3 separate regions of the Homo sapiens genome follow, and all the other regions are linked to region 2. Evidence: fine-mapped expression QTL. A gene starts in region 2. Each other region holds a variant in brackets. All regions are shown on one strand. Distances are between the middles of the regions.

Region 1 (10,911 bases), 660 kb after region 2:
AGCAGCTAGTTATATATAAAAAAATCCAAATTTTTTAAAAAGTGACTTGTATTAATAAAAACTGGTGAATAAATCACCAATGATTTGTTTCCTCATGCTGTCATATTATTCTTCAGATACAACCATAAAGGCAAATAAGCCATAAAGACAAACAAGATGACATATTAAGAATGTTTAAAATTGCTTCTTCCGAATTTTCCGGATTCTACTGGCAAAGCGAAGCTTTGGCATCTTCTTTTTCTTTTTCAAAGCTAAAATCAATAAAACGACAATGAAAATCATACATCTCCAGTCTGTAGGCTCACTATAAATCACTATTTCTGATAAGGTTATTGAGCTCACTTCATCTTATTTTTAAGGACTGTGAAGTCAAAACTCATTATACACTCAGTTAATAATATTTTACCTTTAAGATATGAAGATACAGCTACCGTCTACTGCAGCTAGCCAGTAAAAGCATTTTGACAAAACTGATTAACACTACGGAGATACTTATGTAGAAGTAGTCTAGAAACAGCAATTTGCTATTAGTAAAATGGATAAATAAAAATATAATTTTTCTGATAAGTTATTTATAAAGTTTATCTAAAGGTGGAATAAGAAAACATTCACTACCTTTTGCACATGCACGTTTGCAATCCTCCCTGCTAACAAAGTTATTGTCATTCCCTCCACAGCCAGTATAGGTGAAAGCATCACAGGTTCTGTATCTTGGATTAAAATAATAGCGAGTCACATTGGCAGAGCACAGTCCCTCATCTTTTGGACTGTAGCAAAATGATGGAACTTTATAAAAAAGAGAAGAAAATTAGAAATGTTATAATACCAGAATTTTTAAATTATGGTGATTACTGAAGTAACTGAAGAAAATCTAATCCCATAGAAGCCTCAGTCTGAATCCAAAATATCATACTAAACCTTTAAAAAGATGTGCTTCAAATTGCAGGTAAGCTTACATGCTATATTTTGGTAATTCTAAATTTTTGTAAACTGGATAGAATTTCTTCTGAAGCTACATCTTTGTATCCTTTAAATGTAAAAAGAAGTTAAACCCAAATACCAGATATGGTTAGGTAAAAATGGGGTAAGTTTCAAGGACAATATGTGGCATGATTTGGTAAATTTTGTCGTGTTGGTAGTTTTGCTTTAATGTTTTTAACAGCTCTCATTCCATTATTAATCAATAATATATGCATACTAATTTCCAGGTAACCACTGGAGCAAACATTTATATGTACACAAACAAGAGAACATCCACAGTAACCATCACCACATTAACTCAAGATTTTGCATATTCAACACAGTACAGCTATAAAGCTTTATCAAATTCTCTGCCAAAGCAAGTTTTCCTTGTTTGTTGAACTTTTCAAAAATCTCTGTGTCTGGGGGAAATGCCTGTATTGTCTCCCTCTGCAAACATTAAATACTACTCAAGAGACTATCATTTCAAGGATTCAGGGGTGGTGGTGGGAGAGGTAACAAATGGATAGGACAGAAACGTGTGGAGATGTTTGTGCTGCAATTTGCAATTACTGAAGAATACAGAAATCTAACCGAAAACTTTAGAAAGAAATTTTCAAGTTTCACCATCTTAATTCTGTATATATTCCACTATCTCACATGTATAACTTATTGTGTACAAATCTGAGGTCATAACATTCATTAATGAATACTTTAATCTTTTATGCATAAATTGAGTAGCTGAGAAATAGTTCTAAAGAAACAATTCAGGGCTGGGCGTGGTGGCTTACACCTGTAATCCCAGCATTTTGGGAGGCCGAGGTGGGCAGATCATGAGGTCAGGAGATCAAGACCATCCTGGCTTACACGGTGACACCCCGTCGAAAGAAAAAAGAAAGAAAGAAAGAAAAGAAAGAAAGAAGGAAGGAAGGAAGGAAAGAAGGAAGGAAGGAAGGAAGGAAGGAAGGAAGGAAGGAAGGAAAGAGAAAGAAAGAAAGAAAGAGAAAAAGAAAGGAGAGAAAGGAAGGAAGGAGAGAAAGAAAGAGAAAGAGAAAGAAGAAAAAAAAAAAAATTAGCTGGGCATGGTGGCGGGCGCCTGTAGTCCCAGCTACTCAGGAGGCTGAGGCAGGAGAATCGCTTGAACCCGGGAGGCAGAGGTTGCAGAGAGCCGAGATTGTGCCACTGCACTCCAGCCTGGGCAACAGGGCGAGAGTCCGTCTCAAAAACAACAAATCAGAAGAGGCAGAAAGCAAAAATTTGAATCATGGCTTTGTCACTTTCCAGTCCTAAGAACTTGACAAGTCACTAACTTGTCAAGTAATGTGAAATCATGAAAATGCACATGTTAATTTCGCATCAAATTGAGTTTTTTCCACCCAAATGTCTTTTCAAAAAAGTGAAATAGAAATACCATAAAAATCGTATTTACTTTTCTTTGGTGCGCAGAAGCCCATACAAGTAGCTTCATCTGGAAACCTGTTCTCAATCCGGTTCCGGTGACACCCACCGGAAAAGAATTTTTCACATGTCATGGAACTTAGATTAAAGAAATACTTTTCTGTGGACCCCTCACACTGGTCGTCCACACTCACTTGCAGCCGGCAAACTTTGGGAACTTCTAGGAAAAGGAGGGTAATAGAACAATGTTAGTCAAAAGTAGCCTTCTTATTAAACCATCACTGTATTTTCAGCAACATTTTGTGGGGGGAGAGAAGTTGTATTAGTGTTGGGATAGTAAATACCCAGAATACTCCCATGAATCCAGATATTTACTTTTTTTTTTTCTAACAGTGTATTCAGAGCTGACTCAGCTGTGATGTATCTTTCAAGTTCAGTAGAAAGACTCTCTGTTTTCTCTGGGTGTTCTCTGATTGTACATATGCAGTGAATCAAAGCTTATTCACATGAATACGCATTTTCCCCTGGCTCAGTTCCTTGAATGGAAAAGCCCCATGTTCTCTTACAGGCCTTAACCGATATAATTTAAAAATTAAAAATAAATTAAAATATAACAGTATTATGAATCTCCACCATGTCCCGCAACTAATCCAACACATGTTTGGGTATCGGGACAAAAGTAGAGTTATATAATGAGCTAAGTCACACTTCAATAATAAAATCCACTAAAAATATTTCAGATTGATGGATAATCGACAGAAGGAAATGATGTACTCCAGGAGAGATAAAAATCATAGGTTTGGAATTAATGAAAAATACAGAGAAGCACTTACGTTGTACCTAACACGTTATTCTCTTGCATTTATTATACCCCATGGTGAGGGAACAAATCTTTCCCTGAGTCCGCACAGGCACTGAATTATGATCAATGTCAGTTGGGAGACAGGAAATGTGTTAGTGGTTGTAAATTTGTGATTACTTTTAAGAAACTGAAAACCATGAGGTTTGCTTAACACTTGAGAAAACCCAGGCTAAAACTTCCTGTAGAAAGCGAGACGTGGGAAACTGGCGAAGCTGCTACCAGCCGCCGGCGCAAGGAGCGCGAGAGTCCTGGGTGCGCGCAGGGCACTTACTTTCTATCCTCCAGCAAGCATCGTCGCAAGCCTCCCAGGTGTAGAAATTGTTGGCGTTGCCCTCGCAGCCCCCGTACAGGAACTGGCGGCAGCTCTGCGTGTACCTGTCGTAGTAGTAACGGAGAAGTAGGGCCCGGCAGGGTCCGTAGTCTAGGGGCAGGAGACAGATCTCCGCGTTATTTCCTGAAGAAGGGGCAGAAGGAGAGCAAAAGAGAGGGAAAGTGGTCAGGCGTAGCTCCTAGGAGGAAAGAACATCCCGGGGAGTTCTGTCCCCTTCCGAGCGGAGGGGCCTCTGCAGAGAAAGTGCAAACTTGGGAGCGAGTCCCCCCTGCCAGCGGAGCGCGCGGCAGGGACCTGGAGAAAGCGAGGCTTGGAGGGCGCCTACACGGGGCCCCATGGCCCGCTGCGCCCTCTCCGCCGGTTGGGGAGAGAAGCTCCTGGAGCGGCCAGATACCTGTTGGCTCCTGAGCAGCATCGCCCAGTGCAGCCTCCGTCAGGAAAAGCAGCAGAATCGACAGCCCCAGGGGGCGAGCGGGGTCCATGGTGCAGGGGGTCGGGC[G/T]GCCCGCTGGGCAAGGCGTCCGAGAAAGCGCCTGGCGGGAGGAGGTGCGCGGCTTTCTGCTCCAGGCGGCCCGGGTGCCCGCTTTATGCGGGGCGAGCGTCCGGCCGACCCCCGCCGGGGCGGAGCCTGAGGGGTGGCTGATTCATGCACGGGGACTGTCACCCCGCCGCCCCCGCGCTGCAAACTGTGTAAGAGGGAGAGGAATTCCCCGCCAAGTTGAAAAGTTGAACCTGCCTCCCAAACTTTCTCCTGTAGTCCAGACGGGGACGCCCTGAGGGAGCGTTTGTGTCAGTAATGGGAAATCTGCAAGCTAGACGGAAATGACCTGCTAGTGATTGCGCTGTAAAGAAGCCGGAATCCACCTCTTGAAGGCATGAAGTTCAGGTATTTGAAAGGCTGGTGGAGAGAAAGTGCGGAGTTCTTGGGTCAGAGCGGAGCGGGATTCGTTGCAATGGACCTTCAGATTAGATTAGAAATGTAAATAAGTGTATATTTATATTTATACACACAGATTTCAATCGAGTTCTAATTTACATTTAATACAGGCTTATAATATATCGTAGGTGGACAGTTTGATAAATTTTGACAACTGTGTAGCCACCAATAAAGAATTAGAACATTTTGGCTGGGCGCGGTAGCTCGCGCCTGTAATCCCAGCACTTTGGGAGGCCAAGGCGGGTGGATCACCTGAAATCAGGAGTTCGAGACTAGCCTGGCCAACATGGCGAAACCCCGTCTCTATTAAAAACACAAAAAATTAGCCGGGCGTGGTGGCGGGCACCTGTAGTCCCAGCCCCTCGGGAGGCTGAGGCAGGAGAATGGCTTGAACCCAGGAGGCGGAGGCTGCAGTGAGCCCAGATGGCGCCACTGCACTCCAGTCTGGGCGGCAGAGTGGAACTCCGTCTCGAAACGAAGAAAAAGAAGAAGAAGAAGAAAAAAAAAAGAGTTAGAACATTTCCATCACTCCAGAAAGCTCCTGCAGACTTTTTCCTAAATCAATCCTTCCATCCTTAGGCCAGGGGCAAACACTCTTCTCATTTCGATTACCATAGATTAGATTTGCCTATTCTTGAATTTCATATAAACGGAATTATAAAGTATTCACTGTGTAGTATTTCTTTCTCACACTTCCTGTTTTTGAGATACGCCCAGGTCACTGCATCAATAGTCTGTTTCTTTTAATTCCTGCGTAGTCCAAGGTATGAATTTACCAAAACGTATGAATATCCCACAATGTATAAATATGTTGCTGTGTGTATCAATAGTCTGTTCCTTTAAATCATTGAGTAATATTCTAATATATCACAAATGTCTTATTACTGGAATTTGTGTTGTTTCTAGTTTGTTTGGGGGCTCTTATGAAAAAAGCTGCTTTGTGTGGACCTGCAATTTTTATTACTCTTGGATAAAATACTTAGAAATGTTAGACACTGCCAAAGGATTTTTTCAAGATGATTGTACCATTTTACACCCCAACCAAGCATGTATGAAGCTATGTTTTTGTATGTATCTATGTTTTTGGAGAAGAACCATAGCAGCCCAGAGAGATAGCCTTGGGGAGTTCTGAAGATTTGACCAGATCAGTGTATTCCCACACATTTCCTAATGTCAGTGCATCCATTAAAGTTCCCTGTTCCTTTGACATATTAGCTTGTGATCCACTTTTTTTTTTAATACAAACAATTACCTACAGTGAAATTTTACATAAAATATTAAAGATATTTTTGAAGACATTTTAATATACTTGTCTTCCCTTCCCCTTTTCTCTTGTTGTATTCAACATTCTCAAGTAAATAATTATTCTTGACTTCTGAGGATACTGGGGGTAGTTTACAGAAGTTCTCTTTCAAGTTTTCAGGAAGCCCTGAAAAGTATAGGACACACTTGCTCAAAGTGGGTTAATAATCTGAGGTATTTTGCACATTATATCCTTGTGCCAGTTTTCAGTCATTCTGATGTCATGTTACAAGGTCACAGTCCTAGGAAAACCAGCCTGATCTGGAAATGCTGTCAGCTTTGATTAGCAGATGTCTATGATTAAGAATGATAGTTGAAACTATAAGGATAAATGTTTAATTATCACCTCTCCAGTAGGGAAAAATAAATGGGATGGGGATGCTTTGTATAGTTAACTGATTTCTGTGATGTAAATGTGCTCACTAAGGTCAATTTCAAGCTGCCACTGCAGAATCACTGAATGCCGAGGTGGGAAAAGATCTCCAAGAGCCAGAGCTCCCCATGGCCAAAATCTGTGTGAGCTGGCTCTAATGCACCAACCACTGAGACAGACAGCCAGTTTTGGAATGACACATTCAGAGTAAAGTCAGATTAGACCCTCCCAGTTCCTTCAAAATATTATTAGGGGAGGGAATTTTACCACTCATTTACCGAGAATCATATTCAGGAGAAAAGTTGACTCAACTTCAAACTTACCTATATCTATCTTCTGAATAAAATTAAATATATCTTTAGACTAAAATAAAATTCAAGGACTGATACTCAGTTTTCATGGAGCACTGACTACTGCCATTTCTCTTTGTTCTCAGGTGCTGGACACTTTTTGATTGTCTTTCGCTCATACAAAAAAAAAAATGAACCACTGGACACAATGGCTTCTGCTAGTAATCCCAACACTTTGGGAGGCTGAGACAGGAGGATCGCTTGAGGCCAGGAGTCAGAGACAAACCTGGGCAACATAGTGTGATTCCATCTTTACAAAAAAAAAAATTTTAACTTAGCTGGGCATGGTTGTGTACACCTGTAGTCCCAGCTATATGGGAGGTTGAGATGGAAGGATTGGTTAAGCCCAGGAGTTTGAATTTGCAGTGAACTATGGTCGTGCCACAGCACTCCAGCCTGGATGACAGAGTGAGACTCTGAATCTGACTAAAAAGAAAAAAAAAAAAAGATTAGCCCTTTTGTATCAAGACAGACATTTTGGGAAATTGCATCGTGCCATGGAAAAATAGAGTTGGAATTCAGAGGATACCTGGATTTTATTCCTTGCTACATTGGACAAGTTACTTAAAACTCTCTGAGCCTCAGTTTCCTTTTCTAATAGACATAATAACTCTACCTCGCAGATGTGTTATGAGGATTAAATGGAAAATGCCTATGCATTCAAAGATATTGTTTTAGCCCCTCACACAATGGCACAAACTTCATCCAGATCATCCCATATCCTACTTCCCATTGAGAGCCTTGGCACACAATTTTGAGATGGAGCATCAAACTCCCATCAGGAAACAGAGCAACATGAAATGGCCTTATAGAATTAAAGCCCATGTCCTTGCTCCTGTCAGCTCTTCTCTTAACTAAGCTCAGAGACCACCTCTCTGCCCATGAAGTTGTCACACTTTCTGGTAGTCTCTTCTAGGGAAATGAGCTTCAAGGGGATTTCAGAGCAGAATCCTCAGCCCACTCAGGGCTGCTGTATAAGGCATGTAGTGGAAATGGGAGGGGGGCAAAAACAGGCCTCTCACCCTTCTGTGGTGTGGTCTGTAGATGCAGGTTGGAATCAGTCCCGAGAGATGCTCTAGAAATGCTGGTTTCCTTCTACTTTTCTATGCCAAACAGGGTGCATCCTTAAAACCTCTATGACCACAGATGGAGAAAGGAGAATTAAAGAAGTGGAATTGGCAGAAGTTTGAGATTACTAACCCAGGTTATTACAAAAAAAGTATTCCTCTTAATTGCATAAATAATTGAGTATTTTTATATCCATGAAAAAGACATCTTCCAATATAAGGGTAATCTGAATTTCCTGGAGACTACTTTGACGTTACTGAATTTACATTTAGAATATTTTGGAAGGAGCAACATGACCACCACAATCAGCCTCCAAAGGGATGTCATAGCACTTCTATCTCCTTAATCCAGTGTCTAGCCCAAAATGCTGCCTCAAGGCTGAGGAAAGTAATTCCTTTGTCCAAAGTCAACAGGAAGTGCAAGGCTAGAGATAACTGGGAAAAACAGTCATCCAGATTGATTTGTCATTGCTACACCAATTGACAGTTAAATTGTCTGTGGCTAAAGACAAAGGCTCAAAATAGTCTGGAGTTCTGTAAAAATAAGGCATGGAGTTGTAATTTGAATGCTGAATGGAACTATAAGTATGTTCACTTTACACAAGTGTGAACTGAGATCTAGAAAGGTTAAGCATCTGGTCATGTTTACCTGCCATGGTTGTTGGCAGACCTGAGACTAGAATCCACAGTTCTGGATTCTTAGTCCTATATTCTTTCTATCACACCTAGACCTAAGTTCTTTCTACCATACCAAGACCTTAAAGCAGAATATGAAATACCAGAATTTAAAAATGCAAAAGCTGCAGTGAGTCCAGGAGCGCCTCTGCATGTGTCAGATTGCTGCCTCTGATCTTTCTCACCACCACACCCCTGGACCCCACAACAAATGAAGTTGATTTTGACCTGTTTAGCCCCTCCCATGCCTTGAGTATGATACTGTATCCTCTGAGAGCCCTGCCGTCTCGGTAGGTGAACCAAGAATTTAAGAAATGGACTGTGGCAGATGGTCTTCCTCTCTCTCAGACACCTTAGAGAGAGGTAGCATGTCTGGCTTATGAGTGAATGATGAGAATTAATTGAGCCCAGTGATTTGGGGATACATATTATGTAACATAGGTATTTAAGGAGTTACACTGATAACTCCTTAATAAACAAAGACAGTTTTTGCTGCCTCTTAGTTTAAGCCCTGCCAAAATAAAACTTGAAATGAGTCCAGCTGGCACTAATGAGTTTACACATCTGCTAAGAAAGATAGTTAATCTCTTCTGAGCAGTAAATGGTCATGAGGGTTTTGCTAAAGTTTAAGCAACTCCTTCACCAACTAGGTATTTTTCTAACCAGCTGGGCCATGTAAGAAACATTTATTCTAATGCACCCTCTGTCAGGCACAGAGTGCATTTGAGAGTGCTATATAATAAGATGAAGCCACATGAAAGGATGGGGTATCCTCTGTGCCTAATTTTATGAATCCCCTTCCCCCTAGAAAGAAAGAGATAATGAGGGTATATAACGTATCTCTTACTGTGTTCATTCCTTCATTAATCTACTTTAAAGGGAGCTGATTAAATGTTTGAAGTGTGACAAACTTTATGCTAGACATTTGGGATACAAATATGAGGGACCTCATAACATAATAGGGTAGATGAATGAACACTGTATAACCCAGTTACATTACAATGTTCTTAGTACAACATCAAAAATATGTACTAGGTTGTATAGGATTATAGAGGAGGAAGTAAATAAAAGGTAGGCAAAGCTCAATTCCAAATAAAATCCACTCTATGCAAACATACCTGACACTATATCTTCTAGGCCTATGCAATACAGAGACTCATTCCTTCATCTATTTGTTTTGGTTGGCTATTTTAGGTGCTGTGGTTGTAACAAAGTATTGCCTTCTGCTAGAGGAGCAGAATCTCAGAAACCACTTTTCTCTACTTCCTGGATGTACATTCCCTCAAGTGTCATTATGTCTACTTGCGATGCAGACCATCTTTTCTCTCACTCAGATTGCTACATCTTTAACTGTGTATGGCATCCAGAAGATTATGGCAAATTTTAGATGATTTTTATCCGAGACCTCCCAACTCAGTGCTGCCTCACCACCTAGCCAAAATTCTAGCCTTGGTTACTAAGCCTCTGGCACATCAAGAGTGGAGAAAGGAAGAGGAATGTTCCCCTAATCCCTGTATATCATGTGGAAATCTCCTTGGCAATCACAATACTAGTGGACATAACAGTGAAAGTTTGCATTATGCCTTGAATTTATTAGCTCATTAAATCCCGCACAATAACGACTTGAGGGAGATATGTTACTCTCCCTACTCTGCAATGAGAAAGCTGAAACTTTTGATAGATATATGACTTTCCCAAAGCTATTCAGTTAGCACAGGCAGTCTAAATCCTGATCCCCTGGTCTCACTGACTGTATACACAGTCTTTTTTTCCACATTAACAGAGGCCAAAGTCAAGCTTATTATATATACTTTCATGACCCTGGTTCAGTACCTGGACAACGCTGTATCAGTTTTCTTTTCTATGCAAACATAAAGTTCATAATTCATTCATAGGGCAAACAGATAGCTACAATTTAAATACATTGCCATAATGCTCTAAGAAGAACAGCTGCCAAAACTGATAATCAGATTAGAGGATTGAGAAATTTAATCACTAAAGTCCTCATTTTCACGGTTATATTTAGCAGAAAGTAATGGACCTTGACCTTTCAAATGTAAAGACACATTTTCTTTCAAATATATTGTCTTTTTATAAAGTGGCCAAAATCTCGTGTTAGTTATACATTGATTACTGCAGTGCCATATGCTCTCCAAATGCTCATTTTTTCTGGCTTACGTTGAAAAGCTTTTGTATCTTAAATCACACATGAGGGACAATCTGCCAGTTGGGGCAGGAAGAGGCAATAGCTGAAGTTTGAAAGGAACACACATCTCCTAGGACTCTCACTATGTGTTTTCTCTTATTGACTATTAGCTGAGGAAAAACTGAGTGGAGCTGAAAAGTTTACATTAGAAGAGAGTTGAATATGTTAACCTCGACTACATATTCTGAACCAGCCAGGGAAGGGTGAGTTAGTTGTTTCTGTTGGTCAACTGAATCTCAGGTATCTTTGGTCTTCCTTTCTCTTACAATGGAAGTAATGTTCAGGACCTATCTGAGACCAGTCCCTTGTCTACTGCTCTTCATCCTTTTTTCTCTTGTTTTCTCAATGGCTTTACTCCTTCCTCTCTTCAACAGCATCAGCTCTGCCCCCTCTTACTCTTTGGCAAAGACACCCAGATTTTAATAATTTCCATCTGGAATGCTTTGTCTCTGA
Region 2 (10,911 bases):
AAATCTTCATGAAGTCACTAACATGTAAAAATTCTACCAATGAATCAAAAGAGAGATCCAGAATATATTTAAAACGTATTTTTTCTATGCAGTGTTTCCTATTACAATGACTGATTTCATTTAATCTTTGAATTCATCTTATTTTTAAAAGCAAATCACAGGTGTGTTTCCAACTGGGACTGAGGCATGGACCATGCATAATTATAATGAAAAGTGCATGCCAGGAGATAGTATCTGAGGCCACATTTTCACAGCTGATGCATAGAGGAAGTGAACCAATGATCTAGAAAAGATCTTACCTCTACTGCAGTGTCCAGGTTACAGGTTTTCAACCTGGTCTCTCCATTGTCATGGCAGCAGATAGTCTAAGCATGTCCGCTTAATTTACTAAGTTATTAGTTAACCCCTATTTGCAAGAAGGCTCTGGTTCTAGCCTTGTTATATAAAATGTTAAGGATATATCCAAATCTGCATCAAATCATCAAATCAAGGAAAATTCCTTGCATGCATCAGTTTTAACAGTAAAGGCCCACTGAAGAAGTTCAATGATAAGAGGGGAAGGAAGACTATACCTCAAGCATAATTAAAGTAAAAAAGGAATGATAGTAACTTTGGAATCCAAGTTTGGAAACACTCTTTGCATTAGGGCTCTGAACTCTTCTAGAAGGACTTCTATAAGCAAAGAAAGTAAGTGACTATTGGGAAAACGAAGTCCTCTTCAGAGATCAGTCACTTTCAGATCCCTCCATGCTTCAGAAAAATGGCAAGAGCTCCTCATGCTTCCCCCACCTCCCTGCAAAATAATAACAATGCCACAACTTTCTCTGCACTGTCTCTAAATCTGGTACACACATCTATTGCAGCACTTATCTCCTTAATCTTTATTTTATTGGATGTTTATTTTCCCTCTGAGCTCTCGAATACAGAGAATAATCTTATTCATTCATGGATGTTGGGCACGTAGCATAATGCTTAACTGGTATTTTTGTTAAGTTGTTTCTCCAGAAAACAAAACTCTAAGTGCTCCTTGGCCCGTCTTACGATTCTCAGTTGATGCGTAAGAAATACAAATAAATTTTAATATTGGATTGCACAAAATACAATTTGGAAAGTAATATGGAAGTTCTACAGATATCACATAGGTTCCCCCAACATCTTTTAGATTGATATTAATCTCCAATTGCCGTTATCAAATTAGCTGTTTTCAGTGTTTTTCAATCTAGTGCTGGATTATAATGAAGTTTGTTGGGTCCCTGGCAAAAAGAGAAATAAAGACAATGTACTGTGTTTTTCCCTAGTGTTAAATATACTCAATATAAAGGAGTTTTTTATTCTGAGATTTTCTTTGTTGTATTTGAAAATATTCCCTGTTTCATGACATAAGGTGATAGTAGATGCTACATTAAAAAATAAATGCCATATGAATCTTACTTGTAATCTTTTTATTTCATGGCACATATTGAAATATAATACGGCACATCTAGGGAAAGGGCTACTGGGATAATCATGACAAAGCGCCCTCTAGTGGTAAACTGTAGATATAAACTCTTACCTGCTGGAGTAACTTCTGATTTCAACATGTTTACACAGGAAGTGAGAAAAAGAGTGCTCAAGCTTAACTTCAACAATTGTTAATTTTTACATGATTCTTAAAAATAGTTTGAAGGTTTTATAATTATAAGAATTTTCCTACCATCCATATCTCACATCACACCTGTAACCCACTGGGAAGTTCTGCTGTTATCATTCCAGTCAGGAAAAAAGGGCCTGTAGTGTTACTGTTTACCAATCTTAGTTATATTTGCATTTAAAATGAGAAGGCTGATTAACCTAAAACAATCTATATCCACGGTGATTAAACTGCAAGCAATGTAAGGAGCCACTGGGATAGAGTATGCGTGTGTGTGTCCACGTGCATTTACAATGGGATATGGACACATATACTCCTGTGCAGGAGGGTGTGTGTGTGTGTGTGTGTGTGTATGTGTGTGTATGTTTGTTGGGGGCAGGGATTTTTATTACCTCTCAAATCACACTACACAGTTTACAATCTAGTTTATTTAAATTGCAGACTGGTATTACTTCATACAGTAAATGTCTGCTGCATGCATTTCAAACATCCACATTTTTAATCACAAGTAGCTAGCACACGCATGTTTTGCAGTGGCAGAAACAATTAAGGAGAGGTGGTGAAATGCCAAGGTCAATGTAGATGCAGAACAGTGGGGAATAAGAACTGGGGAAAGAAATGTTTCTTATTGTTGTAATTAGTGGATTCTCTCCAGTTTACAGGGAGAGTTAGCTGCCAGAGGAGGCTATCACATATGCCTATGCCTGTGCTAGTGTTCACTTCTGTAAAGTCTACAAAGCTGCCTCGTGGAAGCCTTGATCTATCTTATATGGCTGCTAAATACTAAGCAGTAATGTCTTCTTCCTGGGCACCTCTTTAGGTCACTACTTTACCTTTGGCAAGTGTTCTGTTTTCTGTTATGGCCTGCTCAAGAAGTGTAGTCATATCATCTTGGAGGGGCTGCATCTCTCCACTGCTTTGGTATTTGTGGAGTGGTAAGAAATTTTATCTTTCTAATCAAACCAGGATCTCAGCTTTTATTTAAGCTTCCAGACATTCCTCCTGTTTTGGGCCATTAGTAATATGCCCTTATCCTACTTTACTACTAATCCTATTGTTCTGAATCAGATCAATTTACTTAACTCTTGGCTCTGCACTCCTTTACCAAGGAATTGGTATCCAGCCAACCTTCCCCAGGATTTGGTGGCAGACCATCTAAACTTTCCATTATTTTGCACTGGACTATCACTAACAACAGCTCTCAGGTAAATGTGAAAGTCCTGAATAAATCTTAAAAATAAATACCTTTTTGAAAATTGGAAAGGAAATAGCAGCATGTCCAACCTTTTAAAAAGTGTTTGTTAGGATGCCAAGTTTTTTGTTTTTTTGAGCGTAGACAGATAGAAATGAATAACGTAAGGTTCAATTATTTCATATAGTGTTAAGGTATGCTGAATTAGAAAATATAGTTTATTTAGACACCAGCGCTGATTTACTTTACAAGCTTTCAATATTATAGTTATAGCCTTAAAACATTTAGAAGACTGTATCCATTTTTATCCATTTCTCCAGTTTGTAGGAAATAAACTAAAATGTAGAGTTTTGGAGTAAAACAAAGTTTCAATACTTTCTTGCGTTTTCAGTGTCGAATAGATAGGGATAACACTCATTTTTCTGAATTTGGCCAATAGAAATACACATATTAGATAAAAAAAACTTTTTGGGGGGATCATCTTTAACTTTGTGTATTTGAGTATGTGAGGGAGAAAATTCCGGGGTTGAATCTGGGTTCTAGTCCTAGATCAAGCTCTCATGAAATATGTGGTCTCGAACCCTTATACAGATACGTTTTCTCATCTTTACAGCATGGATTTGACATGCTAGAGCTGGACTGCCTTTAAGAATCACTGAAGATTTTAAACAAACAAACATCCCCAAAGAAAACAACAATAATAACAGCACACACCTCAGGTGAATCTGAACAGTCAGGTTTGAGATCTACTGAACTCAGATCACCCCTAAGATATGCTTTTAAACCCAGTTGTGAACTCCTTGTGACCACAACCATAGATTATTAATCAAAGTGCTTATTTTAGTGTTGCCTTGAGCGCAACAATCAAGAAATGTTTATTGACTTGGGTTTTATTTTATAGGCTAATATGGCTGGCAGTTTTTGTTTCTTTTGATGCTTTCAGGGACTTCTAAATATTGCAGATTTTCACACACAAAGAACAGTCTGACAATTAAGATTAGAGAAGGTAAAGAATAAACTAAACTAGACTTGCCCTAAATGTGACCAGAATTTCTTGAAGGGGTTAGAAATAACAGAGTCAGAGAAGCATATAGGTAAACATATAATTTCAAAGGAATTGCTGAACGCAGTGATGATACAAGTATGCACAAGGTGGTTCTGTTGGAGTAGAGAACTGGGCAGAATCAAAACCAATAATACCTCATAATTGTATAGTGCTTTACAATTTATACATTTCATTCACCTACATCATCTCACTTATCCTTACAAAGCCCTATATAAAATATTAAAATATTACAACCTCATTTGTAAAAATTAATAAAACGAGGCTCTAAGGGGTGAGAAAATAGAATTTCAGAATCAGAAATAACCTCTGTTAGTGTCCCCCAAACTTCAGTCATTTGCAAATCACCTTTATTAGTTTTGCCATATCTGACTACCACCCATACTATTGTTTACCTAGTATTTTTTATTACGTTGACACACTTGAACTTTTTTTATTCTAAGAAATATTTTTGAAATTATGGGTCTGTGTCATACTTTTAGAAGTTAACATTATAATAAAATAAACTTAAAAAAATTGGTGCCATGCTTTAGAACTTTCTTCAGCACAATACATGAAAATCTTAACACATCTGATGACCGATTAATCCTTCAGTTTCTACTTGCACATCTGCAGTAATCTTAGGCAAGTTCCTTAATTTCGCCATACCTGCTTCGTCATCTTTAAAATGGGAACCCACAGGATTCTTGTGTGGATAAATGAAATCATATATTTAAAGCTATTAGCAGTTCCTGACAGGTACTCGGCTTTCGATAAGTGTTAGCTATCATTGTTAGCTTTAGGGCTGCTTTTTCTTCTTCTTCTCATATTCTCATAATTGTAAAGTCCTTTTAAAATTGTGTCCCCAAAGACACTTCTGTTCCTTTCCCCAATTTAACTAAACTGCCAAAAGTTGAAAAGAGGACTTTAAAGTGACAGGTATACTCGTTATTGTCGTATTTCCCGTCATCACTGCTTTAGAGTACGGAGGTAAAATAATAGGCGGGCGTCAAAATCCTTCGATTTTAGAGCTTTTGCAGGGGATACCAAGACTGAGGTAGAACAGCCCTAAACCTGGAGGGCCGCCTATTGGGCAACCTAGAGCACACCTTTCCTCAGGCCAAACCCAGCGCGCCCGGGGTAGTCTCGAGTTCTCAGGTTACCCCTCAGTGACAGCCCTTTCTTGAGTTCCTTCTCCTTCGCGTCAGTCTCTCGTTCTCCCACCCCGCCCCTCTAGACCAGGTGAGGTTTCCTCCCTCACACTCCTAGGGGACATCGCGTCAATCTGGCTTATATATTGTCTCCTCTGAGTTTGATCTTTCGCTCAACGCCTAGTCACCTGTGACTTAGGTTTCCGTCTCGCCGAAGAGTAGCTACTGCCTAGTGCAAGCACCTTTGTAAGACCGGCGATCGCAGTGGTCGCTCTGAGCAGTAATATTTACCGGCTTAACTGAAGCACCCGCTCTTTTGCTTGCTGGGAGATGTAGTCCCTGGGTTGGCCACTTTAGTTCATCGTTGCTACCGCCGGCGTCCAGAAGACTACAGTTCCCAGCAGGCCCAGGGAAAGACAGGATACCCTGGGTCGGCTCCTCCACGTGACCACCCACTATGGCTTCCTAGTGTCAGGGCCAGCTGTGTAGTGGCTCGGTGTGATTTGTTAGCTCTTTGAGGCAGGGTACCCTCCTCAGGATTTCGATATGCAAAAAATCAAATCTCTCATGACCCGACAGGTAAGTCGCGGCGGCTGAAGCAAAGGCTTCCTTCATCTCGGAAGTGAGAGGAGCCGAGATGTTCTGTCCCCAACCAGTGGCGGGCGGGGATCTAAGTTATGGGTGGTGGCAGGTGTCAGGGGGACTGGGAAGCCGGGGCATACCCTAGAAAACTCACCTGGGCCGCCTGGGTTGGAGCACTGCTCCAGCGGGTACCAGCCTCCCAGAAATATTCGTTTAAAAATAAGTCATTGAAGGAATCAGGGTATCTTTGTCTCCCCTCCTCCTCTTTTTGCCGTCTTTCCAGAACAGCCCGAGCTTCCTTGCAAGGTCTTCCGCATCCAGGCTGTCTGTCATATGCGAGCTGATAGCCTGGGTAGGGTGGTGTGGTCTGTGCAGTAGAGGTGACCTGGAAAGACTGAAAACGGATGATTTGAAGACAGAATTAGTAGCTTTTGGATTTTGGGCAAGTCCCCAAACTTTGTAGCTTACGTTTCTGGATGTGAAAATAATTATTTTTGTTCATTTTACTTCACAGTTCTGTTATGAGGGTCATCGATAAGCTAATATATGTGAAAACTCTTTGTGAAATTCTGCTTTAAAAAATTTATTTTTGTCATGGCAAAATACTGATCTTTTCTTTTTTTTCCCCAGAATGGAAATTCATGAATAAGAGCTTTGGCTATTTTGTAACCTGTCTCATAAATGTTAGGGACCTCGTAATAATGCCTCAGCTTCATTTAAGAAGTGCAGAAATTTTCTTTTATGTACTTATTGATTATGACTTTGTTTTAGCTGCCTTTATTTACTTCAGCTTTAATATTTCACTAGAATTGGTCATTTTATTATTTTAATATGAAAGATAGTTAAGATTAGAGTTTTAAATCAACATGGCTTTTAGAAGTTTGGAGAATGTGGAAGGTAATCGTTTAGTGAAAGGTATATTTGTGAGTTTTTTTCTTGTTGATTACAAAAATAACTCAAATTCCACATTCTTATTTGAGAATTCACAATTTGAGAGATATATAAACAGGATACAAATTGTGTATTTCTCTTGCACAATGCACAAATGACCCTTACATGATTATTTTAGTTATGTCAGAGCATTTTGTTAATGTTATGAAAATATAATCAAAATGTTCTGTGAATAATAAAAATATTTAAGTAAGTGGCTAGTAACATTTGTTAATTCCTCACATGTGTTGAGTACTGGTGTTGTGCGTCCTACTACTTCTTACTTGACGATGAGTTTGGGTCCTGCTGTATCCTGTGGCAGCTGTGTGACTTTCGGCAAGTTACATAACGTTTTTAAGCATCTATTTCCACATCTTTAAAATAGGAATAATGTGTGCCTTATGGAGTTAGCCTGATAGTGGTGTTTACATGATATAATGAAGTTAAAGAGTTTAAGGCGTTAACGGAGTTCCTGGGCATTATCAAGGAAGTGCTTGAACGCAGAGACCGTTAGTTACATTGGCTATGTTGATGGTGGGAAAGCAGGAAAATTGGAAGCAGGCTGTTGCAGTAATTCAAGCAATAGATAAGTTCATGCTGACTTCGGTACCTGTTTGATTTTTAAATCAATATATACTTTTGTACTTTATATCACTAATACCTCTAAACTGCCTTTGGAATGCTGAATTTGGACTTTTGTGCATCAGCTGTTTGATGCTGTCTCAAGTTTGTTGCCTGCCATACAGTTCAGTGTAGTTAACGTTGTCATAATTGTATGGTAGCTGTGGTTGGTTTAGTTTTTTTGACCTCATTTTGTAAAACTGAGGAGAGAAAAAAATTTCAGATAGCAGTGATAAGTGTATGTCTCCTAAATGTAATGCAATTGTGCTGAAAATGGTAACACTTAAGCCTTAGTCAGTTGCTTATTGAATTTCAGCAGGTCAAACCTGTGTTTAATTGAAATGGAAAAAAATACATTAAAGAACACATACAAAAAGCTGGAACCATACTGTGTACAAAGTGAGGTAAAATTAGGAGTTTTGCATACATATTTAAAGTTATCCTAATTATATATGTTATGGCTTGACTTTCACATATTTGATACTGATGCACAGTTCCTGAATCTATGAGGTATGAAATTAGTGTGCCTGCTATTTACATTGAGGGTTTGAATTAGTACAGTTTATTATTGGGTTAAATTTAATAGGATTACAAGTAAGTATACATGAAAGTATTTCTTTTTTTGAACCTATAGAATGTGCTAATAATATATATTGAGTTAATATGGAGAGATAGGAAATTAAGGTCTGTGAAATTTAAGCTTTGGGACATTTCAGCTGTCCTGGGATCTTTGTTTGCAAAATAATGGGAGGAAGGAAGGCTTTGTTAGCTCTCTTTATTTAGATGAGATCTGTTCTTCATCTTTCTCCATCATGCTCACCTCTGTTCTTTCAGTCCATTCAACAAATGTTTATTGAGCAATTTGTGCCAGGTACTATTCTAAGTAAAAAAAAAAAAATAGACAAGTGTTAAGGCAGACACGGTGATAAACACTGTAGAGGAAAAGAGGATAGAAAGTCCTGGGAATTGTTGGTGATTTGAGGTCACTTATAATTTTAGATAGGATGGCCACGGAAGGCCTCACAGAGAAGGTAATATAAAAAAACCTGAAGGGGGTGAGGAAGTGAACTCTGTGAGGTAGATATTTGGGAAGGAGCATTTCCAGTGGAAGGAAAGGCAAATGCAGAGGTCCTGAGGCAGGAGCTTGTTTGAGAAATTGCAAGTGGCCTGTGTGGGTGAAGTGAGTGAGGAGAAGAGTAGTGGGAGATGAGGTTAGGATGAGGTTAGATGACTGAAGGCAGGAAGCTAGATCATGTAGTACCTTATAGGTAATAGCAAGGTCATGGCTTTCATTCTGAGTGAAATGGCAAATAGAGGAATGATATAATTGGACATAACACTTCAGACAGACCATTTGGACCCATGTTTTAAGAACAGATTGAAGAGCGGAAAAGAGCAAAACCAGGGGAGGTGAATGATGAGGCTACTGTGGTAATCCAGGTGAGAGGGTGGGTGTAAGCCTTCCACCCTAGTGGTGGAAGTGTTGAAAGAGGTCAGACTGTGAATATGCTGTAAATGTAGAGGTGACAGAATTTCCTGACAGATTGGGTTTGGGCTGTGAGGGAAAGAGAAGCATCAAGGATGACTCAAAATAGTTTGGCCCTAGCAATTGGAAGAATGTAATTGCCATTTCCTCGGATGGATAAAACTGAGGGAGGAACAGATTGAGGGAAGGGACATGGTTTTTGGACTTGTTAATTTGAAAGCCTCTTAAATATTCAACTGGAGAGATACAGCAGGCAGTTGGCCAGATGAATCTGAATTTATGGGGCGAATCCAGGGTATAGCTGAAACTCTGGGAGTTACAAACATGTAGATTGCATATAAACTGGTTAAGATCACCAGTGGAATGAGTGTAGATATACAAAGAATCTAAGGTTGGAGCTTTTGAGAATCCAGTGTTAAAAACTCAGGGGGAAGTGGTGGATCTAGGAAAGCAGAATGAGAACATGCAGCTTGTGAGGTAAGAAGTCTTTAGCTTCCTGAATGGCACCTGGAATATAGCAGATGCTCAATAAATATTTGTTGCATGAATGTGGGATGAAGAGAACAACCAAGAAGACTGCCTTGAAGCCAAGTAAAGAATTTAAAAGAGTAAGGAGTGATTAGCTGTGTTAAATGCTGCAGATTGGTCAAGTAAGGTGAGAGTGAGAATGAGAAATGTGCTTTTGGATTGAGCAGCGTGGAGGTCCTTGGTGCCCCAACTACAGCAGTTTTCATGAAGTTGTGGGGAGGAAAGCCTGATTAGAGTGGGTTCAGGAGAAAATAGGGGGAGAGAAATTAGGGACTGGGTGTAAACACTCTTGAGTTTTGCCGAAAGGAGAAGGAAACACAAATCATCACAGATGCTTCTTTGGATGGATAAGACATAGTTGCTGGTTTCGTAAATGGAAAATGAGGATTAATGTAGACATAACTGAAGTAGTCTGAAGTGTTAATCTGATTTGGGTAAATGAAGAGGCGAGTGTTAATTTATGCTGAATTTTCTATATGTCTAAACTGGGGAATTATCAACACAAACATCAAATACAAAAGAAAATCAAATAGTGGTTAATGATAGCATCAAAGTGTTAATAAAGGCAGAGAACTGTAGTTAAAACCATGACTTCATGCTTTAGAGAGATGAAGATAAAATAAGAATGACTTCATTTGTTAGTAGAAGTTTATAAAACTGATAAAGTGTTAAAAATCTGTAATTCTAAAGTACAGTTGAATGTCAGATGTGCTTTGAGACATTTATGTAATTCTTCATTTCTGTTTTGATAAAAGGAAAGCATTTCTGTCATAATAAAAATATTAAGAATTATGGTTAATCATCACAGAATGCTTGAGATATATGAGACAGTATTTTTGGCTTCTCACATACATGACCTCTTTTACTTCTTTTTTTTTTTTTTTTTTTTTTTTTTTTTTTTCGAGACAGTCTCACTCTGTCGCCCAGGCTGGAGTGCAGTGGAGCGATCTCGGCTCACTGCAAGCTCCGCCTCCCGGGTTCATGCCATTCGCCTGCCTCAGCCTCTCAAGTAGCTGGGACTACAGACGCCCGCCACCACGCCCGGCTAATTTTTTTTTTTTGTATTTTTAGTAGAGACGGGGTTTCACTGTGTTAGCCAGGATAGTCTCCATCTCCTGACCTCGTGATCCGCCCGCCTCGGCCTCCCAAAGTGCTGGGATTACAGGCGTGAGCCACCACGCCCGGCCTGTTTTACTTCTTATAATAGCCTATGAATGATCATAGAATATAATGCACAGAAAGGATAGATAAGTTGTTCAAAACCACAGCAAGAAAGTCAGGATACAAACTCAAGTGGTCTGCTCCAGAGCCCATTGCTATAATCACTTCACTCTACATCCTCCTAACATGTACACGGGTTTTCAATTTGTATTACTTTTATTTTGTACATTTGGCAGAAATTTGCCGTGTATTGGTATTGAATTGTTGTGTGGTGACTACTTTTTCTAGATATTGGTATATATCACGTTTACATTTCAGGCATTGGTTTCTTTACGGACTAGCTCTGGGGAAAGAGAAATTAAATATGATATATTTCTTCAGGGATTTCTGTTAGATTAGTTAAGCAAATCTATACAGATGGTCCCCGATTTACTATGGTTTCACTTAATGAATTTTTGAGTTTATGATGGTTTTATTGAGATTATTAAATGTATTTTCCACTTATAATGGGTTTAAAAATTTTTTTTATTTTTAGTTCAAGGGTACCTATGCAAGTTTGTTCTATAGGTAAACTCGTGTCACAGGGGT
Region 3 (10,694 bases), 77 kb after region 2:
TAAAATGATATTTTTTGTTTGTTTTGAATTCAGAAAAGGGTGACTGCTGTATTTAAGTTTTGCAGATAATCAATTAGCTATATTTTGGCATAGTTTAATACAAATGCTTATTTATATTTGTAGAATATTTTTCATTTCTTAAAGGGACTAGTAGGTTCCTAATTTGTGCTGCAATTCTTAAATTTGCCTGTAATGAAAAAATGCCTCAGAAATAAAAGAGGCACTTATAAAAAATACTCTTAACTAATTTGTATTAGTTAATCAATTCCTGGAATACTTACAGAATAAGCAGTCTTTGAAAAAGTCTTTAATTGGTTTGATTTTTCCCTTGGTTGAAACACATTGTAGATAAATATTCTTGTGTGAAAGATTGTGTTCTGGAAATATCAAGTGTCAAAATGCAGTGCATATAGTTAGATCCTTGTTCAGAAAGTATGGTGTGTTTAGTTTCTGCCTTTGGAAGGAGTGGCTTTCTAGAAAGCAATTTTCTTATTCTGGATAAATGTAAAGAATACATAATTACAAGTTTTTTTTTGATAGGGATTGTCTTTATGCTCATATTGTATAATAGCTTCTTATCCAGTTTTATTATATTGTTTTCCTATTATAGAAATATTAAAAACCCTGGAACATAGCAATTAATAAATGCTTTAAAGACAGCAAAATTAATGTTAATGTTAATTAGTATTAACATAAGCATTAACATTAAATTAACATAGGATTTAAGAATTCTCAAAGATTTAAGGTAATTCCTTAACATCATTTAGAATTCTAAGTTTAACATAAATTTTAGAATATCTATTAAATAATTTTATTTGAACTCCTTTTTAACCATCAGACTGTGTGTGTGTGCTGTCACGTTGTCAAACTTAGTATAATTGTAAGACATGTTTTTTAAAAAAGGCATGTTGAAGCATTCCCATCTAGGTGAACATTATCTCCTTTAAAGTAGTTACCTTGAAAACTATTCACAGCTTAGTGTTCACCTGACATGCATTCATGTGGATTTGATTTTCTAAAAATTAGTCTCATTGATGTATATTCACTCCTTATTTAGAATTATAAAAATAATGGCATGATTCTTAGGCATTATAATATATATGATTAAATGTATAGTTGAAATGCAAAAGGAAAATAAACACATATATCATTTAATACAACAAGCCAATGTACCTTTCAAGAATTTTAAGAATACCTTTGAAGAATATCATTGAAAATGAATAAATTTAAATTTGGGATTATTCTGTTTAGATAAAAGAAAAATGTTTGTTAAATTTTGTGATAAATCATTAAATCAAGATTTTTGTAATTCAAAGGAACTTTAGAGATTATTCCAACTTTTCCTCTAATTAGCTGTGTGATGTTGAACTTTGCACTGAATCCCTTCAGACTGCCTCAGTTTCCTCATGTGGTTAATGCATGACTTAGACTGGGTCTTACAACTCTTTAGCTTAGCTAGGAGTAGAAGACACATCATATGACTTTGGCATATATGTTTGTGTTGTCTGTTTCTTGGTATATAGCGAAAAGTAAATGAAAGTTTGTAGGCGTCAATGTAACACAGATATGTACTTCATACTTTATTTCTGATGTATTTGTACAGAATATCTTAAGTGGTGCAAGCATATGAAAAAGAGAAGTGTTTAACAATTAGTTTTCATAAATGACTTTATTGATTAGGATTTTTGCTGTTCTGTTAAAATTTTTAGAAGACATCATTCAGATTTCTTAAGCTATTTTAAAAAATGATCTCTGCAGTTTCTTAAAGGAAGCCAAAAGTAGCTTGATGCAGATGATACTGTTTTAAGTGATACCATTCACTGAGTTGTCTTTAGGAAAACCTTTAGATGTGTATTTCCAAGTTTGTGCTTTTAGATAACTTGAAAGATTTAAAAGTCAATAAACTGAAGATCAAGATGTTGTTTTTCTACTAACTCTACATGTATATTGAGGGATTCGGTTTATGTACTAGAATTTTATTGTTGCTAAAGGGTATCTGGCTCCTTTTTTAACATCTAGGAATTTAAATTCATGGAACAGTCTCGCTCCCCATCAGTTTCACCTAGTAAACAGCCAGTCTCAACTTCTTCAAAAACAGTGACCTTGTTTGAGCAGTACTGTAGTGGTGGGAATCCATTTGAAATTCAGGCCAACCACAAAGATGAAGAAACAGAAGATGTCTTAGCTTCTAATGGGGTATGTGGTGTATGTGAAACATAAGTGAGTTTTTTTTATTTAAAACTGTTCTACTCAATGAACAAGGCAATTCACTACATTTACGTATCCATTTACTACCACCCTGCCTGCCTGTATACTTAATGTACCTATGCTATTACATTTATAGATGATGACTTTACAATATGCTTTGTTGACCTTGTCCTCTTGAATAGTAAATTTTCCCTTTATGTTTGCTTTATGTTCTTATTACATGATGTTCTTATCAGGTTGCTAATCAAGTAGTAGTGTAATTTCTTCACTGAATATTTACGTGATATATTATGTGAATATTATGTGATATATTGTGAGATGACGGAATAGATATCATCTACCCTTTTTCTCGACACCCTTTATGGGTCACTGATTCATTTTGTTCCATGTCCCTTTATCTAAGAGAAAGTGGTAATGTCTTGCATAGTTGCCTGGCAGGGATATTTTTTGAGATTTAGAAGTACAATGTTTTAACAACACTTTGAGGACCTCAAAAACAATATTAACTAGACGTAGTGTGAGTTAGTGGAAAGGATTTGAAGGCAAATAATGAATATCATCTTTATTATTTATCAGCTGTGTGGCCCTTGGCAAATTATTTTAACTTTGTGACCCTCAGTTTCTCCATATTTACAGGGAGAGGAATGCTTGCTTCACAGTTCCTGCATGGTGTTTTCACAGTATTTTACTTGACTTAATATTTTGTTTGATGGTTTCTTCTGATCTTCATAATTTCCATAATGACCCAATATGATTTTTATTTTTGATTTGATGAAGCTAAAGTGAAAACCATTCAGATGTGACAAAATATGTTGAAGGATTTGTCTTTATATTTTATGTTAGTTTTAGAATTTATTTTTCATTTGGTGAAGACAAAATTCATTAAGTTTAAATTGTTTCATAGTAAGCCATATTTAAAATTATGATTCAGTGATTCTTTGTGACATTTTGCCTCTGTGAAGTTGGCTTAACCGAGAGGAATTTAAAGTCATTCCAATTATTTTGGAATAATATATCTCTCTATAAAAGTGATTCATTAATTAAAACTTAGATAGCATTTGATTCTCATTATTTGCAGCAGTGTGTTCTATAAAGTTGCTGTGAATACTAAATTAGCAAATACTGAACCATTACTCCCAGAGCAAATATAGGATTAGGTTCCTGTGAGCCTCGGGTTACGACATGTTTATCAGCCCATCAGTACATAATCTGAATTCATAGCCAACAACGCTGTAACTCTTGCCTAAATGAAGCTTATCAGACACACATATTTTGTTTCTCAGGCACATCACAGCCTTCTTGTACTTAGAAACACTAGACAGCACTTCAACGCAACACTTGCAGTGGCATTCTAAACAGTTAAATCACCAACAAAAAGCACAAAAATACAAAGCACTTGGCACTAAATAGGTCAAGAAAAGGAAACTTGTTTATAGTATGAGAGCCTAAGCAAGAAGGCAGAGCATGCCTTGTTTGTATTCAGCTGGGAACATGCATGTTGGATGACTCAAAGTTTTCACTGTTCTGCACGTTTATGACTGACTCCAAAAATATCAGAAGTATTGACTTTAGGGTTACAAATAAATTTCAGTGAGTAGGCAAATTTGCAAACATTGAATCCTCAAATAATGAGTATCTATGATACGGTGTGGTCACAAACCTCTGTTGTTGTAATCAGGACATCCTAGTTTATGTAGAATACCTTTCTGCATAGCATCAGGATCACATTGTGTATAAGTATAAAGGAGTACCTGTAAGGCTTGTTTGCAGTTATTAATGTGTGATCTGATCTTTCCAGGTGCAACTTATGTCCTTGAGAATCAGGGTCCACATTTAAATACGACCTTTCATAGTGCTTTTTATTAACAGACTCTCAAAAAATAGTTGTTGAATTAGGGGGCTAAATTCTTTCCATGTTGTTATCATACTGGTTTCCTCAACTGTCATGTGGAGATAAAACTTCCTCATAGAAGTGTCTGTATGATTAAATGAGATAATTCATGAAAGCACTTAGCATAATACTTGGTTAAAAACTCAGTGTTAGCTATTACTTAATGATATTAATGTTAGCCATTTAATCGTATTAATCTATGACATTAATAGATGATGATGATGATGATGATGATGATGATGATGATGAAAGTGCTGTCACTGCTTCCTTTACTGTGTGCATGAATTCCACTGTCTTTCCCATGCTGGCATTGGGCCATGGTGCCATAAAGATGATGAAAATGTTAGGAAGACACCCTTTGTCTCAAGAGTAAATCCACCATTTTTGTCCTCATTCTCAGCAGGTCCCTGTGTTCTAAGCTTAATTTTCTAAGCTGCCCTCGGAATTAAATTTTATAGTGAATTAGAACATCAGCATGTGTGTTGCATGTGTTTATTAAGCTGAAGTAATACTTCCAGAATGCCAGAATTGGATACTGAACCTCTTTTTAATGAGTTTTATTAGCAAATTGGAAATAAGTATGGTGAAACTTCTGAGAGACTTTAAGAAAAAAAAATGCGAATGTATACTCTTTAGGCCTAGTGGAATGTTTGTTAGGTTTTGGTTTATGGCGATTTGATTTTGTTGCACATTTTCAAGCTTTTATAGGTGTAATATTTTTCTTTTGTGCTGATTGAGGTAGAATGATGAAGACAATGGAAGAATAATTAGATTCTTGGTGACAACATTAAAGCTAAATTAAGAATTTTCTTGTATTTAGCTGTTTCTTATAAAACTGAGTACTTTCACTGTGTTGAGACACCCCACGAAAAGAGGCCCTTTATACTCATTTTTTA[A/G]TAACCTGTGTTTTCTTCAGTATGAATCTGATGAACAAGAAAAGAGTGCCTATCAAGAGTATGACAGTGACAGTGATGTTCCTGAGGAACTCAAACGAGACTATGTGGATGAGCAGACAGGAGATGGTCCTGTGAAAAGGTGATTGTTCTTAAATTGTGTGGTATTTAGCATTTTATCTTGTGCTCTTAACATATAGGATTTCCTTTAAGGTTAAGAAGAAACAAAAATTATTTTTTTTGGTACTTATAATGTCACCTGACAGAAGTTAGTATGTTTTAAAAAATGATTCCTGGAAGGCTAAAAATGTGTTGTTCCTCTTAACATTTCATAACTGAATTTCAGGAAAACTAAAATAGTTATATGAAAAGTTCTGCCTTGCAAAACCTTTGCTGGTATCTCACAGATCAGTTCATCTAACTGTGAACTGGATTGTTAATGTGTCAAAAAAGAAATTGATTTAGCCATTTAAAAACTTTTAAGTGGCTAGTGTTAATGTAGCTTTCCTTTGAGTTATACAGTTTGTTTGACATTGCTTTTTGTAGCAAGATTCTAGTTCCTTTTTTATGGTATCACAAAGTTAGTGATTTGTTTAAATCTGTTAAAATTACTTTATTATCTTGTTGAAAATATTGGGCATAATCAAAGAGATTAGTTTTTGCAGAGGAAAAAGCCTTTAGATTTATAAAATCAATCCTGCCTTTGGTGGCCATTTATGCTTTACATAGATAAATAAAAATCCTCAAGGAGAAAATGGTCATTTGTTTTGTATGTGGAGTTCTTGCTTCAATCTTATAAACACAGAAAGTCGCCACTTATTTCCCCTATGTCATTTTTGTTCACTATTTGAACCTTCTATCAAGGTGTCCTATTAGTGGTTGAGTTTTGTTTTATGATAAACTGACCTCTTCAAAACTATGATAATTATAAGAGAATTTTTTCTTACCTTTTGCCAGTTAAATGGGCCTGATTCTGGAATGTTAAAATGACTTGATTTCATGACTATCATACATTTAGTGACTATAGATATACTTTTTGCTTAATGATAGATTTCTTAATGATAGATTCTTAATGATAAGTATATTCTTATCGTTTAACCCTAAGCTACCTATTTAATACTGTTTAACTTGAAATCTCGACTGAAATAATTCTGTTTTCAAAAGTGAGCAATTCACGTAGTTGTAGCTATTTTAATTGAAAAAATTTGTTCTATTGGTTTTTGCGTATGTATGATATTAAGTGTCAGCATGATCTACTGTGAACTGAATAGAACTATTTTGTTGGAATTCTTTATTAGATGTGTTTTGGGAATATTTTGGCCAAAAGGAAAGGTCTATTTGAATTGAAATGTACAAGTAAGATAGTGTCTGCCAGTACATGTGTATATACCTCCATTTTTGGTAGGGTTACTGGAGCCCCCTAAACTTTTTACCCTTAAGAAGTTTGAATTGAACAAATTAGTAACTGAAGCCAATAAATTAATAGATATTATCAGTTCTAACTTGTGTCTCTTGAATTGACCAATTTTTCTTGTATTTTACCACTACCATTCTAGTTTATGCCAAAGTTATCTCTGTGCCAGATTATTAAATCAACTCCTTTACCTTGGATTCTTGTCTCTAGGCTTGCCCCATTCCAAACAACTCTTAGATCTAAATTTAGGGGTTTTTTTTTTCATAGTTACAAATTTAATCATGCTGTTTTTCTGCTTAGCTTTTAGTGACTCACCACTGTGTTCAAGATAAGGTTCATATCCCTCAGGTTTGATTGCTTTCAGAGATATCTGGCCTTTACTTGCCTCCTTTCTTGTCACTTTTCCCTCTGTTCACTTCTTCTACATGCGAACGTGGTGAACTCCTTGTACTTTTCTGAGCGCACTCTGTTCTCTCTTATCTCTGACCCTATTTTATGCCGGCCCTTTTTTCTGTGCTGACCATATAGCTTTTACTTTTCTTTTGAACCTTATGCTGCCCCGTAACCCCAAATACTGCCATCAATATTCTGTACTTAATTCACGTTCTTAGGAGGGTATTTTTTCATAAGTTTCTGAAATCAAGAAACAGTACATTTGCACCTAGATGTATTATTATCCTGGAAAATCAGTTTTTTAAAGAGATGTAGCTTTTTTAGTGGTTGATAATGTTTTATAATCGAAGAAATGCATTATGGTACTTTATTTTTTTGCTTACTTATTTCCCTTATGGATTGTAAATTTTATAAGAAGTTAATTTCTATATCTTTACCTAATGCATAGTAAGATTTTCATTAAATAATTAGTTAATAAAGGCTAGGGACCTATCTGACTAACTTATTGGTTTATTACTTGACAACTCTAGCAACTCTGTTTTGTTTTTCCATATCAAGTGTTTCTCGGGAAACTCTAAAAAGCAGGAAGAAATCAGATTACAGTCTAAATAAAGTGAATGCACCTATCTTAACAAATACAACATTGAACGTCATAAGACTTGTTGGTAAGTAGCTACACCTTTAAAAAAAATTATAACAGTTAAATTAGTTTGTTACCGAATGACTTTTACTTGTGGTTTTTATTGTCTTGTATACTCCAGTGCTCTATGCAATGAGGGATTTAAGGTTATCATATGTCAATGCTTCTCATTTTAAATGTTCCAAATACTATAATACTAATAGTAATGCCAGTTTTTCTTTTTCAGTTACCTGTTTATTAAGTCTTTGTATCTTACAATTTTTCTAAAATATTTCAGTTAATTGAAATGCGATGAAAAATTCTCTAGGTAGGTTAGAGGTATGTGTAAGATAAGTTAGTACCAGTTTCACATTTATACAATATTTTTGTACTTAGTTGTTTCATAGGTCTTTACCATCTTCTGTCAGGCAGAGTGAATAGTGACTTTCTGGCATTTTCAGACACAAGGGATTTACAAGCTAAATGTTCAGATTATAGGAAATGTTGTTTTTGTAACAGATAAGACCTTTATTGATGATTTTGTAGAAGGCAAACAATATGAAGAAATGATATTTTAAATATTCAGGTTTTAGGATGATGTGGATTTTTTTAAAATCAGTATTTCAACATCTTGTATGCTTTTAGCCTTTGTATCTCACAAATAAGTCTATGTATTTGACAAATAAGTTATAGAGATGTCTTCTCCTATTAAACTTCATTGTTCCAAGCAGGAATTTTAGTGGTTTTCCATAAAAATCTCTATATTCTATCTATGGAGATGGTATTTACCTATTGCCTAGTTTGATTAACCTTAGCTCTGTTGAAATAGTCTGTGTTCTTTAAGATAATTCTTAAATTTAATTAATGAATAGGATAAAATGTACAGAATGCTTTTTAGGAGTCACGGTTTCTCTAGAAAGAGCAAAAAATATTACTGAATTGAGAAGAACAGAAAGGTATACCTTTTCATGATGCTCAGAAAAAAGGATAGATTCTAAAAAGCTATTCTGTGGCTAATTATTGCCAGGGAGCTAAGCTTTTCTTCTTCTTCCAAGAGAACTGACTGAACATAGTGTCAGAAATAACTCTCGAGAATTTGTAGAATCAGAATTGGGAGAGTGCTGAGTGGTCATTGGTGTAAGTTGCCATGAAGTCGGTTGTCTTTCTGTAATGTCTCTCATACATGGTAGCTGTCTAGCTTCTGTTTCATGACTCCCAGTCATTGGAAACACAGTGGTTTGCAAGACTACTCATTCTATCATTAGACTGATCTCATTAGTAGAAGTATCTTCCCTAAGGTAAACCAAAACCTGTCTCTCTGTGATTCTAGCCTTTGGTTTGTCCTTTTGGTCTAAGAGTTATGCCCTTAGAAGCAAGAAGAATAAGTTCGTGCATTTTTTTCTTCTATTTCTTCTATTCTTCTATTTCTTCTATCTTCTATTTCTTCTATTCTTCTATTTCCTCTATCTTCCATTTCTTCTAATTCTTCTATTCTTCCATGTGATCACTTTTCAGATATGTGGTGGTAGTTATCGTGCTTCCTTTTCTCATACCGACCACCCCACAATCCATTTTTCAGGCTCCATGGGCTCAGTTCCTTTATCTTGTCCTCACTGATAGAAATTCAGACCTTTCAGAATCATTGTCATCCTCCTTAGCCTTCTAGACTCAGCAGTTTTCAATGTCCGAACACATTCCTTGAGATGTAGTCAGCTTTTGCTAGATTATGTTGAAGTAACAAGCAACTGTTGGTGCATCAAGACGTTCAACCACAAAGTTTTATTTTTCACTCGTGATACGCATTGTCTCCTGTTTATATGCAGCTCTGCTCCGTGTGTCTCTTCATTCTAAGATGTAGGTTGAAAGAATAGTACCAACCAATCTGGAACATGGGGAGAAGAGCAAAAGCAAACTATGTTATGACTCCTGAAGCTTCTGCTTCCATGTGTCACCCTTGACTTCCTCTGACATGTCATGGCCAAAGCAAGTCAGGCTTGGCAAAGGGAGGGGAGAAGTATGCTTCTGCCGCAGGAAGCACTGCAAGTCAAGGGAAGTGGGCAGGGCTGTATATTGCTCTTACAGGGAATTGGGAAAAATAATATAATCAAACACATCTAAGCAGTTGTTTATATTTTTTACCTTACCTAGTTCAAAAGGGGCTGGAGGTAGTCATGTTGCTGTTTACGCTGAAGGCATATTTTCATTATAATCAAATAAAATAAAATACAAGGCTAAGACAAAGTTGAAGAGTGGGCACATCATGCTTTATCATATCATATTTAATGCAGACATCAAATACAATGCTTAACTTCTTGGTAGGCATAAGGGAATTGAAGAAACAATATATACCACTATCCTCGTTATCTGAGAAAAAGATACAGGCCTTTATAATAATGGTAGAAATATGTTCCTGGTGCTGAATTCAGATGTTAGTAACAACAAATTTTTGTATGAGGATTACTGATCAACATAGTGGGCCTTGCTTTTGAACAGTGGGTTTGTAGGAACTGAGAAAAGCCACATTCAAGACCCTTTAAAGTAAAGTAAAGTATGGCACAGTCCTGAATAAAGCCTTACTCTGTGAAGAGAATTTGACTATTGCAATTTCAGCTTTCTCCACTACCATATCTTTTACTGGACTTGCAATTAGGAAACAATGCCGAGTATGACAATTTAACTTTTATATCTTCTCATTTAGGACTGGGATTAGGTGCTGCCATTATCACCCCAGTTGGGATCCCCAGTAGACTTTTATGCCTATCATTTTCTCTCTCCCTGGGATGTTTTTATCTTCAGTTTTTAGATATATACAAAACAGAACTTTAAGGAAGCCACTGTCTCAGAGGCCTCTGACTAGCAAATGCACTATTCCATCCGCTGTTGTTATTGCATAGAAGTGCCTGAAGATTATAAACTGGCAGAGGTCATGCTTCTTCCTACAAAGGGAGAAGTACGGTTGTGTAAATAAGACAGATTAATTTTTGGTGCTTGAGAAGATGAAGGAACTAATTATTGAGTATTTGGGAAACCATATTAGAACATTAAAGGCATATTTAAAATGTCCTTTTCAAGTAGTATTTACTTGGCAGATAATTAGCAGAGCGTAAACAAAAGAGTGTTAATGGGGCTTCCTTACCCCAGGTGGTAACTAAATTTATTAGAAAGGCTCAGGGAGGCTTTGCACTAGTGGAGAGGACTGATCAGAACAGTTGCTTGTATTATATAAAGAGAAAATTCTGTCATCCTGATGGTTTCTTGCAGACAGTGAAAGAGAAA

The links.
Region 1: its variant is fine-mapped to the expression of VPS50 in monocytes (BLUEPRINT, PIP 0.95).
Region 3: its variant is fine-mapped to the expression of VPS50 in whole blood (TOPMed, PIP above 0.99). The same link has a PIP of 0.9 or more in blood mononuclear cells, cerebellum, lung, sun-exposed skin, thyroid and tibial nerve.

Annotation. Positions count from the first base shown.
Region 1 is chr7:93,886,646-93,897,556 of GRCh38, forward strand. It overlaps TFPI2 (tissue factor pathway inhibitor 2), which reads right to left and starts at 4,108. Exons shown (of 5, transcript NM_006528.4): 1 at 3,946-4,108; 2 at 3,492-3,674; 3 at 2,390-2,578; 4 at 616-786; 5 at 1-251. The coding sequence starts at 4,033. The coding sequence ends at 175. It overlaps TFPI2-DT (TFPI2 divergent transcript), which reads left to right and starts at 4,249. Exons shown (of 2, transcript NR_134235.1): 1 at 4,249-4,434; 2 at 6,597-6,943. The variant G/T (reference allele first, on the strand shown) is at 4,051.
Region 2 is chr7:93,226,907-93,237,817 of GRCh38, forward strand. VPS50 (VPS50 subunit of EARP/GARPII complex) reads left to right here and starts at 5,460. Exons shown (of 28, transcript NM_017667.4): 1 at 5,460-5,594. The coding sequence starts at 5,562. It also overlaps a transcript of HEPACAM2 not described here. RefSeq lists enhancers at 5,161-5,230, 5,371-5,540, 5,631-5,680, 5,921-5,980.
Region 3 is chr7:93,303,809-93,314,502 of GRCh38, forward strand. It overlaps VPS50 (VPS50 subunit of EARP/GARPII complex), which reads left to right. Exons shown (of 28, transcript NM_017667.4): 18 at 2,020-2,196; 19 at 5,016-5,134; 20 at 7,358-7,464. Among named protein-coding and RNA genes, the nearest start is that of VPS50, 77 kb to the left of the region's middle. The variant A/G (reference allele first, on the strand shown) is at 4,996.